Homo sapiens: one gene and its partner. The protein of the gene in region 1 purifies or fractionates together with the protein of each later gene. This does not show direct contact. Each region holds a gene or a part of one and is shown on either strand. Other genes may lie near its edges.

Evidence for each region. Proteins that work in one complex are often made in the same cells at the same time.
Region 2: the proteins of SLC14A2 (region 1) and ABCF2 purify together in Homo sapiens (affinity purification with mass spectrometry, with the first as the bait; one large-scale study listed by BioGRID). This does not show direct contact.

What each region holds. Positions count from the first base shown.
Region 1 is NC_000018.10:45,642,972-45,646,627, reverse strand, and holds part of SLC14A2 (urea transporter 2), read right to left. Parts: intron 3,497-3,656; coding exon 3,447-3,496; intron 2,643-3,446; coding exon 2,468-2,642; intron 1-2,467.
Region 2 is NC_000007.14:151,210,940-151,214,206, forward strand, and holds the end of ABCF2 (ATP-binding cassette sub-family F member 2), read right to left. Parts: intron 3,253-3,267; coding exon 3,115-3,252; 3' UTR 545-3,114; downstream 1-544. Other genes in the region: ABCF2-H2BK1 (ABCF2-H2B protein), read right to left, coding at 3,119-3,252.

The sequences.
Region 1 (3,656 bases):
GTCCAAATCAGCTGAAATAATTTTTTATATCCAAATAGTTTTCCTCTCCTGGGGATCCAGTAAGCATGGCTAAAAGACAGTCCCCAATCAGACCCAATGCTTTGGGTGGACAGCCTCAAAGAGCTTAATGAAGACAGGAGGGGATTTTCTAGGGCAATGAGTGGGGTCTCTGGTTCTGGTTATCTGTTGTTAAAATACTTTGGGAGCCTTGCCTCCATTTTGGGTAATTGAATCTGTTCTGGAAACCCGGCAGAGAACTGAAGCCCTTATCCTAATATTATAGAGGTTTTCATGCATCATGGGATCGGACCACCTGATCTTCACACTCCCTTCAAACGTTGGGATTCTCTGAACCTCCCTGTCCTTCCTGCCTGGAAAACTCCAGCACTGAAGGGTCATCAGTTTTTCTTTGTCCAAGAGTGGTGTGCTTTCTGGCAGATGAGAGAACAACAGAGTGAGAGGTTGGAGAAGAGTGAACCTTAGAAATAGTTCCCAGACAATGTAGAAGGCGGGTCTTGGTTTAAAACTGCACCCCTTAGTGCACATCACTGGGTATCCTAGTTCTCCAGCAGCCCCAGAGCAGGTCCTCCTGATTCCAGTCATGCTACTGTCACTTTTCTGGGTATCCTCCATTTCCTGAGGGTCTTCATGCTGTCACCAGCATGTAAAACCCCTTTGCTATGTCGCAAGGGACTTGGTGGTGTCTGTTTGGGCCTGTGCACCGCCCACCAGTTTGTAAGCATTAGTATGTAGACTGTCTCTATCAGGGATCTGCAAAATACAGCTTGTGGACCAAATCTAGCTCACTGCTTGTTTAATAAAGTTTTATTGACACATAGCCATACTCATTCATTTACACGTTGTCTATGGCTACTTTTATGCTATAATGACAGGGTTAAGACTTTGCCAAAGAGAATATATGGCCTCCCAGCAGAAAATATTTACTATCTGGCTCTTTACAGAAAAAGTTTGCTGACCCCGATCTATATATATCTTTGTATATGTATATATATATTTAAAAAGACCAAATGAAAGCTATTGACTATAGTTGAGAAACAAAATTATGAAATTCATAGATAATTGTCTTTCTATAGTCAGGGCTACCTATTTGTTTTAAATATCATACACTTCATAAAGCCTCCCATGCTCACAAGCAAATAGAAGAATGAAGTAAATTTCCCAAGCTTTTTACACATGGAACTCAGGTACTTTCCTTAACTGAAATCTCTGCTTAGAGATGCTGGTTTGATTTGTCCCAGCAATCCCATTACTAGGTATATACTGAAAGGATTATAAATCATTCTATTGTAAAGACACAAGCACACATATGTTTATCACAGCACTGTATACAATAGCAAAGTCTTGATAGACTGGATGAAGAAAATGTGGCACATATACACCATGGAATACTATGCAGCCATAAAAAGAATGAGTTCATATCCTTTGCAGGGACATGGATGAAGCTGGAAGCCATCATTCTCAGCAAACTAACACAGGAACAGAAAATCAAACACCACATGTTCTCACTTATAAGTGGGAGTTGAACAGTGAGAACACGTGGACACAGGGAGGGGAACATCACACACTGGGCCCTGTTGGGGGATGGGAGGCAAGAGGAGGGAGAGCACTAGGATAACTACCTAATGCACGTGGGGCTTAAAACCTAGATGACGGGTTGATAGGTGCAGCAAACCACCATGGCACATATATACCTATATAACAAACCTGCATGTTCTGCACATGTATCCCAGAACTTAAAATTAAAAAAATTAAATTTTAAAGAGATGCTGGTTTGACCTAAACTAAGAAATGCTTATCCTCCATAATAAAGTCATATATAGGATTCTAATTTATTAATTCCTCCCTGCTATGGAATATCGCCTTGCCCCTTACAAAGACCACTGAATGGTTAAGACTCCTTATTTAGATAATTCCCTGCCCCAATCGTCCCTGTTTTGACTTTAAAATCCCATCAGTGTGAAATTCCTCTCTTTGTGGTCATTAGTCTCTAGCTCAGCCACTAGAGAGCCTTCCCTTCCTAGCCTGTGTCCCCTGACTTACCCCCCTACTCTGTGTCTGCCTAGGAACCACTCAACAAGTTTAATTTTATAGCATCTATTATTTAGTTTAAGATGCCAAGAAGATCACCTGTTAATTACCTTTCCAAAAGACTACTGTTTTTGTTTTAAGTCAACAACATTTAAGACACACACCTTATTGCTAACTCCGGAAATTTTACTGTAATACCAACATCCCTTAATGTCGCACAATAGATAGTTATGGAGATTCTGGCAGAGAATGAAAATCAGCTTCAGGGAAAGAAAGTTACAGGTGTGCTTGGTTCTACACAGGTGCAAGGAGAGGCAAAGAAGGTGAGTGCTGCAACTGATTGAACCAGAGCAGAGAACACAGGGAGAGGACATCAGGTCAGGCAAAGAGCGTTTCTTCCCCGAACATGGCTATTCACCGCTGGGGGCCTTCTCTTCTTCACCGCTTTTCACTGTCAGGTAGTAGATGCGGTTGGCCTCGGGGTAGGTGACTTTGCTGAGTGGGAGTCTGAAGATGGCTGGGTTGTTTGTCGTCAGGAGCAGGAAGATGATGGTGGCAAGGCAGAAGGCCCAGGTGCCTGGTGGCACGCCCACCTGGAAACAAAAGCATTGGGGACTGAAGAAGTTTCCTAGTTTCCTGTGTTGGGCTGGGGACTCTGGGGGAGAAGGATGTGACAGGCGTTGAGGATGGAGATCCTCCCTCCAGTGAAGGCATTGATATTCCTGGATTTGCAATGTCACAGTAGTTGGTCAAAGAATTTAGGGCTGGATGCAGTGGCTCATGCCTGTAATACCAGCACTTTGGGAGGCCAAGGTGGGAGGATCACTTGAGCCCAGACCAGCCTTGGCAACAAAGTGAGACCCAAAAAAATACAAAAGACAGCTGGGCATGATGGTGCATGCCTCTAGTCCCAGCTACTTGGGAGGCTGAACTGGGAGGATGGCTTGAGTCCTGGGAGGTTGGAGCTGCAGTGAGCCAAGATTGCACTACTGCATTCCAGCCTGGGCAACAGTGCGAGACCCTGTCTTGCAAAGAAAACAAAAACAAAACAGATAATTTGAGCCACAATCAGAATCTTTCAATGATGGAGCTGAAAATTGGCCTGAGGATGTTCCCCCATGTCCAGTCACACAGCTCCATCTGTCCGTCGTGTTTTCCACTGCTAGTTACATTGCAATCTTTCAACACACACACACACCCCTCCCTCTCCTAGAGGTACATGTATGCAATTGTCAATCCTCCTCCGGACAACCTTAGATAAACCTTAACAGAGATGTCGTGTGAGCACCAGCTACCATTACCCGCTCAATGTTCCTTTCCCAGACCCCACAACCCCATATGTCCAGAAGCTCTGGGAAGAGCACTTTGGGGTAGTGTTCAGGAGAATCCACACTTACCACTGACATGATGTTGGAGATGGCTGCTTCCATGTATGCACAGAACAGGGCTGTGGAGGAACAAGGATCACCAGAGTGAGCTTCCCAGGGCCTTCCCCCTAAGCCACTGCCATTGCAGACCAGGGAGCCCAGACCAAGAACAGGAGCCCCACCCTCTCTCCTGCAGCCTCAGATTCTGCACCATGCCCTGACAGCTGGCATGCTTGCCTG
Region 2 (3,267 bases), on another chromosome or scaffold:
AAGGTAGAGTGGAATCAGTGTGAGCGGAGTATAATGAGGCTTGGACTGAAGGCAGATGAGCAAAACGCCTGAGCCTGGACTAGATGCAGATAGCAGAAGCTCCCCAGGTGGTGAAGAGGCTGACAGGGAGGAAGACCACTGGAGGAGGTGAGAAGCAGAAAAGCAATAGGTGCTCACCAGAAAAGCAGACGTGGCGGTCTTGGGAGTTAGCAGTAAAGGGAAGAAAAGCCCATTGCAAAATGGAGAAAGTCAATTGTCTCACTTAGCACCTATGGGGGAACAAATACTTCAGGCCCTTGAATGCTGTGATTAAAGAAACCTGGAGCAATATGAAAGGTATAGGGGCTTGGGGGAAAAGAGGATGTTACAAATTGAGAGGTGGGAGAAGGGTTCCAAAGACCAGCATCACCTGCTGGCTGTGTTAAAGCTAGCAACCCCTCAATCAACTTACCTCTCCACCCAGCTCTGAACGGCTGGCCACATCCTACGGGCTAAGGTTTAAGAGAATTAACAGGCCACTTCTCAATCCAAAACAAGGCACTGCTAATTTTAGAAATATGTATTTTGTGGACTTTTAAAGCATTATTTAAATTACCAAGGTTGACATTTTTCTTGACAAATAAGCTGACTAGACTATTTCCATTCCTCCAGGTTCTGAAGATCTCCTGTCCTAGTATGGAGACTCTGGAGATCCCGAGACTACCTGAATTCTTAGCAATATCCAGCACTTCCTTAAGTATCAAGGGCTCTGTCCCTCACTGTCCCCATTATCCCAGCAGCCCACTCTCCAGATGCCATTCTCCCCTGAACCAAGGCTCTGGACTCTCAGGACAGACTAACCTGGGCCATTTTGCTCCAGGCCCCACTTAAGGCATAAAGCAGTCAAGCCAGTACCCTCTGGGGTCAGAGGACTCCCATCTGTCTCAGCTGCAGTGTCTCACGGGAGGCTCCTGTCCCTGTTGCCCAGGGCAGCTCCTGGACTTTGTGGCCATCTGAGAAGATCCTACTCATTTTTCAAGTGAGAGCACACCAATTCCACCTTTCTGGGCAGCTACTCACAAGAAATTTCCCTCCTTTTTGAATACTTCTGTCTCCTATCTAAATCACAATTTAGCATCTAATTTGTGTCCTGTATGGTTCTGTCTTACTGGCTTTCCAAGAAGATCATGAGCTCCTAAGGGGTTTAAGCACCATCTGGGACAGTTGCTCCCGCCAGTCCTGGCTGTATTATGAGTACTGAAAAATCATGGCTGTGTCTTCCCATAGGGATGGCTGATTTCAGAGGCAGAGTGATGAATCCACACCAGGAAGGATGGCCACTGGTGAAATGCTATTGAAGTTCAAAAGACCCAGATAAGGTATGCAGAGCCCTGGGCTGGAAGTGAATTCAACAGTGATGATAACTATGGCTGTGGACAGGTAAAAATACAAAATTTCCTGTATCCCAATAGGAAGAGAGGTTCACAGACGTTGGTGTGAAAATGCAAACTCCTGGCCATCTCTGCACCTCTCTCATTCTACCAAATGCGATTAATCAATAGGTCTGATGCTCAGCAATCTGAATTTTTTTATTTTTTTGAGACAGTGTCTCGGTCTGTCATCAGGCTGGAGTGTAGCGGCACGCTCTGCTCACTGCAGCCTCAACCTCCTGGGCTCAAGTGAGCCTCCTCTTATCAGAGCAGCTGGGACCGCAGGCACATGCTACTATGCCCGGTTCATTTTATTACTATTTGTAGAGAAGGGGTCTCCCTACTTTGCCCAGGCTGGTCTTGAACTTCTAGGCTCAATTGATCCTCCTACAGTGGCCTCCCAAGGTGATGAGCTTACAGTCGGATTACAGGTGTGAGCCACTGTGCCTGGCCAGTCTGCATTTTTTTGAGACAGGGTTTTGCTCTGTCATCCAGGCTGGAATGCAGTGGTGCAATCTCAGCTCACTGCAACCTCCACCTCCTGGGCTCAAGCGATCCATCCACCCTAGCCACCTGAGCAGGTGGGATTCCAGGCACATAAAGACGGGTTTTGCCATGTTTCCCAAGCTGGTCTTGAACTCCTGAGCTCAAGTGATCCACCTGCCTCAGCCTCCCAAAGCGCTGGGATTACAGGTGTGAGCCACCGCACCTGGCCTGCATTTTTAACAAGCAGCCCAACTGCTGTGCAGTTGGGGCAGAACCTCAGATCACAATCAGAAAACCACGCTCCTGGACAGTGGTTCTCAAAATAGTCTCTAGACCAGCAACAACAGCATCACCTGGAAACTTGCTAGAAATGTTAACGTTCTTGGTCTCCCCCAAAACCTATTGAACCAGAAACGCTGAGGCGAGATCTGGCAATCTGATTGCATGAGCCCTCCAGGTGATTCTGATTCATGTTAAAGTCTGTGAATCACAGGCCTGAGAAAAGGTACAATTTCAAATCAGAAGTAAAGGGACAAAGTTCTTCCAGCTCCTATGGACTAGTCTTCAGTTCCCATCGACACACTGACGCTGGATCCAGCTCCTGCTGTGGGCAGTGCATGTTGGCACTGCAGGGAGGAGAAGGCCCCAGAGACCCGAGAAGGAAGGTAGGGACCGTGGCTTCCTCTTTCTTTATTGGGCGCTTTGTAGATGTCACGCAGGTCTAAAAGTTACACTGCTAAATAATTATTTAAAAACTGACCAGGACGAAGGTCCTGGTCCGGAGCTCCAAACCAGAAGCAAAAAGGAATCGGGGCGGTGGGCTGGGGGGTACTCCTCCAACATCACCAAAACCCAGAAAACGAGGATCCTAAGCTCCTCCGCAGGCCAAATCCAGGGCTTGGGCCCCTGGGCTAACCCGCAGGTGCCTCTGACTGCATCACACTCAGAGTAAGATAACCAGCAAGGGGCTGGAGGGAACGGCCAGCCGAGTCCAGACATGGACAGATGTAACTGGAAGGAGGACAGGAAACAGACAGGTACTGTCCAGCTGTAGGTAAGAGAGTGCAGCTAAGGCAGGTTGAGGGGCAGGGGAGAGGCTGGGGGAGCAGTATTGCAGCAATGCAGGAGTGTAGCCCCAGGGTCCTGTCCTGAGCGGCTGGTCAGGTTAGCAGCTGTTAGTTCCCAGATGGAGCTCCTGACCCGAACCCAGGTAGAGGGCTCACACGTTGTGGGTCCTCTTGGTGAGCTGGGGCTCCTCATCCACCAGCTTGGACTTGAGGTGCTCCTTGTAAGCCAGGATGTCTCCAGGCCACTTGGTGATTGTCTGCTTCTCACAGACCCAAATTTCCTGTGCAACCTAGAAAGCAAAACC